Linked DNA regions of Homo sapiens. The protein of the gene in region 1 purifies or fractionates together with the protein of each later gene. This does not show direct contact. Each region holds a gene or a part of one and is shown in the gene's direction. Other genes may lie near its edges.

Region 1 (5,759 bases):
AAAACTCACATATAAATCAGTGAATTTAATTTTATTCCCTTTCTTTCTTGCCAACACTCAACTCTTCTGCCTCTCTGCACCAGCTCTACAAATCAAGTGACATCCAAAGTGGGACCTCTTCTTGCCCATTTGGCAGCCTCTGTCACCACTTTGCCAAGCAGCCAGCATTAGGAGGATTTTTTTTTTTCCTAGCAACCCTAGGGATTGGGTGGTGTGTACTCACAGTACTCGCTGAATGGCTGGCCGCTGTTTAACCCTGCGGGTGCCTCCTCAACACCCCTCCCCCACCTCCCAACCCTTTAGAGTTTATGGCTCCATCAGCTGGCCTGCTGTCACGAATAATTGTCTTGGCAAGAGGTGAAACCACTTGATGGTGAATTTGTTTGTCTGTCTGTTAAAGTGTTCCGCAGCACCTTGGAGGTGCCAGGATGAAACATGCAAATGCCTGATCCAGAGTTAGGTAGGCAGCAAGAGTGACAGAGAGGCAATCATCAAGAATGGCAAATTAAGAAAGAAAGAAAGAGAGAGAGAGAAAGAAAGAAAGAAAGAAAGAAAGAAAGAAAGAAAGAAAGAAAGAAAGAAAAGAAAAGAAAAGAAAAGAAAAGAAAGAAAGAAAGAAAAAACCATCTGTGCCAGTTGCAAGCTGTATGACCTTGGATAAACCATGATGTCTCTTGGCCTCAGTTTAGTCACGTGCAAAATTAAGGGGGTTGATTTTCTAATGTCTCTTCTAACTCCTAAGACAGCATGTGATGTCTAGGACATTTCAGATTTGTGTTCCTTCCAATTAAATGATACATCTCAGAGATGAATGACCAGGGCAGAGCTCAGATGAATACAAAATGGAATGATTCATGCCCCTGTTCATATGACTTTTCCTGAAAAGTACCACCAGTCTTTGGTGACTTTGATTCCATTGGTTGGCCTCTTCAGCTTAGATGCTAAGGACCAATCCAGTTACTTGTCCAGTCTATCTACCCTGGCTCTGGTAATCCACCCTCATTCCTATCAAAGTAAGTGCCACTACATATAATGCCTACTGATTTTGACTTCCTTAGAGGCAGAAACGATGGGAATTCAAACAGTGGAGCTGGAGACTCACATTTGACTCTCCCTACCATCTCCCTGGGCATCTTTGTCAAGAAGGAAGGCTTGCCCACACTCACTTCCCGCAGGCTTTCTCAGCCATCTTGGAGGACTTTGTTTAAACAGATGACCAACTGACCCTCCCCAGGGCAGACCCTCTACAGACCAGTAGGCACAAGGTGTGTGTGTGGGGAGGTGGGGGGAGAGCTCATTGTAAGGACTCCTATCTATAAATGATTATGAATAGAAATAATGAGGCAAAGGCTTCTCGTCATACTCAGAGGAAAAAGTGGCACAACTTAGTGCAGTCTCAAAGATTAATTAGGATGTGTGTATGGAGACGGGTAGGCTTCATTATGGCTTAAACTATCACGTCCCTACACATTCACACTCTCTTGGAGTGGGGTGCACTGCAGGGCCCAGTAATCACCATGAACAGCACAAGTCAGGGTAAGCCCTCCCCATGTCAGACAGTACAATCGTTCTTTAATCCACTCTGTACCCCATATGTATCTGTGGAGCCTGATGAAGCCCCGGAGGGATCTCAGTCAAGTCTCCCTGCACACAGACATACCTTTTTGCCACACTGGATCTCACACCACCGGGACTTGGATGGCTTCCCAAACTAGGTGGGTTTGGAAAGCATTTCCCCTCTCCACCTCAAAAAAGGGCTGGCTGACTGCAGAATTCCAGTACCCGCAAGAGGGGGAAAAAACCCCAAAAATCTTAGCCAAGCCCCAAATCATTGCCTTCCTGTGTCTTCTCTCAAGTTGCTTTTCTAAAGCAAAGGTCCAAACGTTGATTTCTCTACAGATTCCTACGTATCTCTTACACGTAGACAGTTTTAAAGGGGAAAAGAATATATCCCCAAAAGGCAAGGGGGAGAGCACAGAACATTTCAGTTTCCCACTTGGAAATATCTTGTCGTGGATGATGCTACCCCTACCTCCACCTCCCTCCCCCCTCCTTTTTTTTTTTTTTTTTTTTTTTGAAATATGGACAAAAAAGCTGAAAGTGTTTTCCGTTTCATCAAAAAACATATATTACTTTAGTGGTTCGGTAAAATGTTGGTTTTATGCCCACCCCTTTTCAATCTGCCCATGTCTGAGGTGCTCGGGGAAGACGCACAATCGTGAGCAGCTTACGACACTCAGTGAGCAGTAGGTGCCTGTGCAAGCTCGCGCCGCACACTGCCTGGTGGAGGGAAGGAGCCCGGGCGCCGCTCGCCGCTCCCCGCGCCGCCGTCCGCACCTCCCCACCGCCCGCCGCCCGCCGCCCGCCGCCCGCAAAGCATGAGTGAGCCCGCTCTCTGCAGCTGCCCGGGGCGCGAATGGCAGGCTGTTTCCGCGGAGTAAAAGGTGGCGCCGGTCAGTGGTCGTTTCCAATGACGGACATTAACCAGACTGTCAGATCCTGGGGAGTCGCGAGCCCCGAGTTTGGAGTTTTTTCCCCCCACAACGTCACAGTCCGAACTGCAGAGGGAAAGGAAGGCGGCAGGAAGGCGAAGCTCGGGCTCCGGCACGTAGTTGGGAAACTTGCGGGTCCTAGAAGTCGCCTCCCCGCCTTGCCGGCCGCCCTTGCAGCCCCGAGCCGAGCAGCAAAGTGAGACATTGTGCGCCTGCCAGATCCGCCGGCCGCGGACCGGGGCTGCCTCGGAAACACAGAGGGGTCTTCTCTCGCCCTGCATATAATTAGCCTGCACACAAAGGGAGCAGCTGAATGGAGGTTGTCACTCTCTGGAAAAGGGTGGGTAAGACACTTTTTAATTAAATTCTTTCCCGAAGATTTTTTTTTTCCTCCCTTTTCTTTGCTGCAGCATCTAACATGGACCAAATCACCATCTCTTTGATCTTTCCGTGGCTGTGAACTTTCTATGCTGCCCAGCTTTCTGCATGCTTAGAGGTGAACGTGTGGTTTTTGGGGAGGGGGGTCCTTCTTTATTTCTATGTATTTATTTGATTTTTTGCCCTTTTCTCCCCCTCCCCCGCTTCCCCTCCCTCGGAATAAAATATGATGTAGATTTCTGACCGAGCGCTTCCAATGGACATTCTCCAGTCTCTCTGGAAAGATTCTCGCTAATGGATTTCCTGCTGCTCGGTCTCTGTCTATACTGGCTGCTGAGGAGGCCCTCGGGGGTGGTCTTGTGTCTGCTGGGGGCCTGCTTTCAGATGCTGCCCGCCGCCCCCAGCGGGTGCCCGCAGCTGTGCCGGTGCGAGGGGCGGCTGCTGTACTGCGAGGCGCTCAACCTCACCGAGGCGCCCCACAACCTGTCCGGCCTGCTGGGCTTGTCCCTGCGCTACAACAGCCTCTCGGAGCTGCGCGCCGGCCAGTTCACGGGGTTAATGCAGCTCACGTGGCTCTATCTGGATCACAATCACATCTGCTCCGTGCAGGGGGACGCCTTTCAGAAACTGCGCCGAGTTAAGGAACTCACGCTGAGTTCCAACCAGATCACCCAACTGCCCAACACCACCTTCCGGCCCATGCCCAACCTGCGCAGCGTGGACCTCTCGTACAACAAGCTGCAGGCGCTCGCGCCCGACCTCTTCCACGGGCTGCGGAAGCTCACCACGCTGCATATGCGGGCCAACGCCATCCAGTTTGTGCCCGTGCGCATCTTCCAGGACTGCCGCAGCCTCAAGTTTCTCGACATCGGATACAATCAGCTCAAGAGTCTGGCGCGCAACTCTTTCGCCGGCTTGTTTAAGCTCACCGAGCTGCACCTCGAGCACAACGACTTGGTCAAGGTGAACTTCGCCCACTTCCCGCGCCTCATCTCCCTGCACTCGCTCTGCCTGCGGAGGAACAAGGTGGCCATTGTGGTCAGCTCGCTGGACTGGGTTTGGAACCTGGAGAAAATGGACTTGTCGGGCAACGAGATCGAGTACATGGAGCCCCATGTGTTCGAGACCGTGCCGCACCTGCAGTCCCTGCAGCTGGACTCCAACCGCCTCACCTACATCGAGCCCCGGATCCTCAACTCTTGGAAGTCCCTGACAAGCATCACCCTGGCCGGGAACCTGTGGGATTGCGGGCGCAACGTGTGTGCCCTAGCCTCGTGGCTCAACAACTTCCAGGGGCGCTACGATGGCAACTTGCAGTGCGCCAGCCCGGAGTACGCACAGGGCGAGGACGTCCTGGACGCCGTGTACGCCTTCCACCTGTGCGAGGATGGGGCCGAGCCCACCAGCGGCCACCTGCTCTCGGCCGTCACCAACCGCAGTGATCTGGGGCCCCCTGCCAGCTCGGCCACCACGCTCGCGGACGGCGGGGAGGGGCAGCACGACGGCACATTCGAGCCTGCCACCGTGGCTCTTCCAGGCGGCGAGCACGCCGAGAACGCCGTGCAGATCCACAAGGTGGTCACGGGCACCATGGCCCTCATCTTCTCCTTCCTCATCGTGGTCCTGGTGCTCTACGTGTCCTGGAAGTGTTTCCCAGCCAGCCTCAGGCAGCTCAGACAGTGCTTTGTCACGCAGCGCAGGAAGCAAAAGCAGAAACAGACCATGCATCAGATGGCTGCCATGTCTGCCCAGGAATACTACGTTGATTACAAACCGAACCACATTGAGGGAGCCCTGGTGATCATCAACGAGTATGGCTCGTGTACCTGCCACCAGCAGCCCGCGAGGGAATGCGAGGTGTGATTGTCCCAGTGGCTCTCAACCCATGCGCTACCAAATACGCCTGGGCAGCCGGGACGGGCCGGCGGGCACCAGGCTGGGGTCTCCTTGTCTGTGCTCTGATATGCTCCTTGACTGAAACTTTAAGGGGATCTCTCCCAGAGACTTGACATTTTAGCTTTATTGTGTCTTAAAAACAAAAGCGAATTAAAACACAACAAAAAACCCCACCCCACAACCTTCAGGACAGTCTATCTTAAATTTCATATGAGAACTCCTTCCTCCCTTTGAAGATCTGTCCATATTCAGGAATCTGAGAGTGTAAAAAAGGTACCAATCATTGATTTTTTTTTTTTTTGTAAACTAAAATGTTTAAAATAAAATAGCATTTACAGTTTTTACAGACTGGTGTAACCTAAATGAATTGTTACCTGTGTTACAAGAAAAGCAACAGTTAAAATTTCCTTGGTGGGTGGGGAGGGAGTTGTCCAGGGGCCAGAAGGAAAATCCAGGAGCAACGTAGTCAGATTCAATTTGAAATTTTAAAGAAGGGCAAAGAAAGCTTATCAGATTAATGATTTATGTTAATTTACTCCACATGTGTAAGGACTAGAAAAAGAAAAACTGCAAGACCCTTTATATTACTGGGGCAGGGACAGTGCAATCTAACCACCTTCAGGCAACTGAGAGGTGGACTGAGGACTGGGCACCCTTACTCAGCCTTTAAAGCAGAGAGCATTGCAAATGGTTTTTAAAAAGCAATGCCAGACAGTTTCTCCTAGGAACACGAAACATTTTTGCACTTAATGTAACCATCTTTCAAATCACCTCAAAATCTCATCCCCAAATGCCACCTGTTCTTAATTCTCCTGAGTCTTTGATTCACCAGACTTAGTAGCATTTGTGCCCTTCTTGTACCCCCTGTTAAAGGGAGCCCCTCAGCTCACTGCTCTCTTTGGTCTGGCTGAGGGGAAGGAGGCAGAATCCCGATGTTTAGGGCTGAAAGCTGTGCTTCTGGAGCACATTGCTAAGACTGCAGCAAGCTTAGGC
Region 2 (3,500 bases), on another chromosome or scaffold:
TCCTGGCCAACATGGTGAAACCCCATTTCTACTAAAAATTCAAAAATTAGTCAGGCACGATGGCGGGCGCCTCTAGTCCCAGCTACTCGGGAGCCTGAGGCAGGAGAATCACTTGAACCCAGGAGACAGGTTGCAGTGAGCTGAGATCGCACCCCTGCACTCCAGCCTGTGCAACAGAGTGAGACCCTGTCTCAAAAAAAAAAAAAAAAAAAAAGTGGGCAGGGAAAACCCTTAGTGGTCCCTGCCCTTGGGCAGCCCACCGTATTCTGAGAGACATGACTCAAAGGATTACACAAATTCTTGTAAAATCATAAGTGCTTAGTGTCACAAAGGAAATGATCTTGGCACTACAAAGTCTGGCTTAGACAGGGTGGCACCTCTAAGGGCATGACCTAAGAAGGAAGGAGGGGGAGGAACAAACTGGGTGCAGGTGGGAGGAAAGGTCATTCTAGGCAGAAGGAAGAGCTTGTGCAAATGTTGTGTGGTGGGAAGAAATAGGTTGATCTCTAAGAAATAAAAAAGGAAGTCAGTGGGCCTCAAGTGAAACAATATTTTTTGGGGGGGTGTAATGGTTTTATTGAGCTATAATTCATGTACTATACAATTTACCCATTTAAAGTATATACTTTAGGCTGGGCACAGTGGCTCACGCCTGTAATCCCAGCACTTTGGAAGGCCGCGGCGGGAGGATCTCTTGAGTCCAGGAGTTCGAGACCAGCCTGGGCATCATGGCAAAACCCAGTCTCTACAAAAAACAAACAAAAAAAATTAGCCAGGCATGGTGGCGCATGCCTGTAGTCCCAGCTACACGGGAAGCTGAGGCAGGCATAAGCCACTGCACCTGGCCATGCCCACCTAATTTTTGTATTTGTAGTAGAGACAGGGTTTCGCCATGTTGGCCAGGATGGTCTTGAACTCCTGACCTGAGGTGATCCGCCTGCCTCACCCTCCTAAAGTGCTGGAATTACAGGCATGAGCCACTGCACCCGGCCTTATGTAAGGGCTTCTGTGTAGACATATATTTTATTTATTTTTTTAAAGGTGGGGTCTCACTATGTTTCCCAGGCTGGTCTTAAACTCCTGGGCTCAAGTGATCCTCCCACCTTGGCCTCCCAAAGTGCTTGGACATATGTTTTCATTTCTCTTGGGTATATACCTAGGAGTTGAATTGCTGGGTTATAAGCCAATTCAATTTTTTTTTTTTTTAAGAGGGAGTCTCGCTATGTCGCCCAGGCTGGAGTGCAGTGGCGCGATCTCAGCTCACTGCAACCTCTGCCTCCTAGGTTCAAGCAGTTCTCCTGTCTCAGCCTCCTGAGTAGCTGGGATTACAGGCACACGCTGCCACGCCCAGCTAATTTTTGTATTTTTAGTAGAAACACGGTTTCACCATATTGGTCAGGCTGGTCTTGAACTCCTGACCTCAAGTGATCCATCCACCTCAGCTTCCCAAAGTGCTGGGATTACAGATGTGAGCCACCATGGCCAGCCTCTATTTTTAATTTTTTTAAGCACTGTGTGTTTGTTTGTTTCTTTGCTAGACTGTTTTCCAAAGCAGCGGCACCATTTTACATTTCCACTGACAGTGTATGTGAATTCCAGTCTCTCTACATTCTCTCTAACCCTTTGTAATTCTAGCCATCTTTGTGGGTGTGAAGTGTAGTATGTCATTGTGGTTTTGCTTTGCATTTCTCTAATGACTTGACGTTGAACAGCTTTTTATGTGCCTATTGGCCATTTGTATATCTTCTTTGGAGAAGTTTTTATTCAGATCTTTTGCCCATTTTACTCTTACTTTTTTTAGAGACGGGGGTCTCACTATGTTGCCCAGGCTGGTCTCCAACTCCTGGGCTGAAACTATCAAGCGATCCTTCTGCCTTGGCCTCCCAAAATGCTGGGATTGCAGGCGTGAGCCACCGCACTTGGCCTTTAATTTATTTTAGAGACGGGGTCTTGCACTGTAGCCTAGGCTGGAGTGTAGTGACGCTATCATAGCTCACTGCAACCTCAAACATCTAGGCTCAAGCAATCCTCCTGCCTCAGCCTCCAGAGTAGCCAGGACTATAGACACATGCTACCATGCCTGGCTAATTAAAAATTTTTTTTTTTTTTTTTTTTTTTTTTTTTTTTGTAGAGACAGGGTTTCACTATGTTGCCCAGGCTGGTCTTGAACTCCTGGGCTCAAGCGATCTTCACACCTAGGCCTCTCAAAGTTCTGGGATTACAGTTGTGGGCCACCACACCCAGCCCCTTCAGTATACTTTAAATCAGGGGTGTCCAATCTTTTGGCTTCCCTGGGCCACATTGGAAGAATTGTCTTGGACCACACATAAAATACACTAACAGTTATAGCTGGGCATAGTGGCACACACCTGTAATCCCAGCACTTTGAGAGGCCAAGGCGGTTGGATCACTGAGGTCAGGAGTTCAAGACCAGCCTGGCCAACATGGTGAAACCCCGTCTCTACTAAAAATACAAAAATTAGCCAGGCGTGTGGCAGGCACCTTTAATCTCAGCTACTTGGGAGGCTGAGGCAGGAGAATCACTTGAACTCTGGAGGCAGAGGTTGCAGTGAGCCGAGTTTGTATCACTGCACTCCAGCCTGGGCAACAGAGCAAGACACCGTCTCAAAACCAACAAACCAAAAAACCCCACTAAAGATAGCTGATGAGCTAAAAGAAAAAAAATCGCAAAAAAAAAAAAAAAATCTCATAATGTTTTAACAAAGTTTATGAATTTGTGTTGGGCCAAATTCGAAGCCATCCTGGGCCACGTGCAGCCCGTGGGCAGCAGGGTGGACAAGCTTGCTTTAAATCATCTCGAGATTACTTATAATACCTAATACAATGTAAATGCTATGTAAATAGTCATTATACTGTATTATTTAGGGAAAAACGGGGAAAATAGTCTGTAAATGGTCTGCGCAGGTGCAATTTTTTTTTCCTGAATATTTTAGATCCAAGGTTGGTTGAATCCTGGGTATATGGAACATATATATATATATACACACACATATATATACACACATATATATATAGAGAGAGAGATGCTGCTCATCTATATATAATCTATGTAAAAAAATTTTTCTTTTTTTTTTTTTTTTTTTGAGACGGAGTCTCGCTCAGTCGCCCAGGCTGGAGTGCAGTGGCGCGATCTCGGCTCACTGCAAGCTCCTCCTCCCGGGTTCACGCCATTTTCCTGCCTCAGACTCCCAAGTAGCTGGGACTACAGGCGCCCGCCACCACGCCTGGCTAATTTTTTGTACTTTTAGTAGAGACGTGGTTTCACCGTGTTAGCCAGGATGGTCTCGATCTCCTGACCTCGTGATCCGCCTGCCTCAGGCCTCCCAAAGTGTTGGGATTACAGGCATGAGCCATCGCGCCCGGCTAAAAAATATTTTTATATTTATTTATATTTATATATAGATGGTGCTTATATCCAAAGTCTTTATTCTCTCCTTCATGTTTCTTTTTTTTCTTTTTTTTTTTTTGAGACGGAGTCT

What was found. Proteins that work in one complex are often made in the same cells at the same time.
Region 2: the proteins of LRRTM1 (region 1) and PNPLA6 purify together in Homo sapiens (affinity purification with mass spectrometry; 2 studies listed by BioGRID and IntAct, with this or other methods). This does not show direct contact.

The regions. Positions count from the first base shown.
Region 1 is NC_000002.12:80,301,225-80,306,983, reverse strand, and holds LRRTM1 (leucine-rich repeat transmembrane neuronal protein 1 precursor), read left to right. Parts: upstream 1-2,231; 5' UTR 2,232-2,832; exon of another isoform or gene 2,833-2,988; intron 2,989-3,105; 5' UTR 3,106-3,164; coding exon 3,165-4,733; 3' UTR 4,734-5,106; downstream 5,107-5,759. UniProt on the Homo sapiens protein: Exhibits strong synaptogenic activity, restricted to excitatory presynaptic differentiation, acting at both pre- and postsynaptic level.
Region 2 is NC_000019.10:7,545,717-7,549,216, forward strand, and holds part of PNPLA6 (patatin-like phospholipase domain-containing protein 6), read left to right. Parts: intron 1-3,500. UniProt on the Homo sapiens protein: Phospholipase B that deacylates intracellular phosphatidylcholine (PtdCho), generating glycerophosphocholine (GroPtdCho). This deacylation occurs at both sn-2 and sn-1 positions of PtdCho.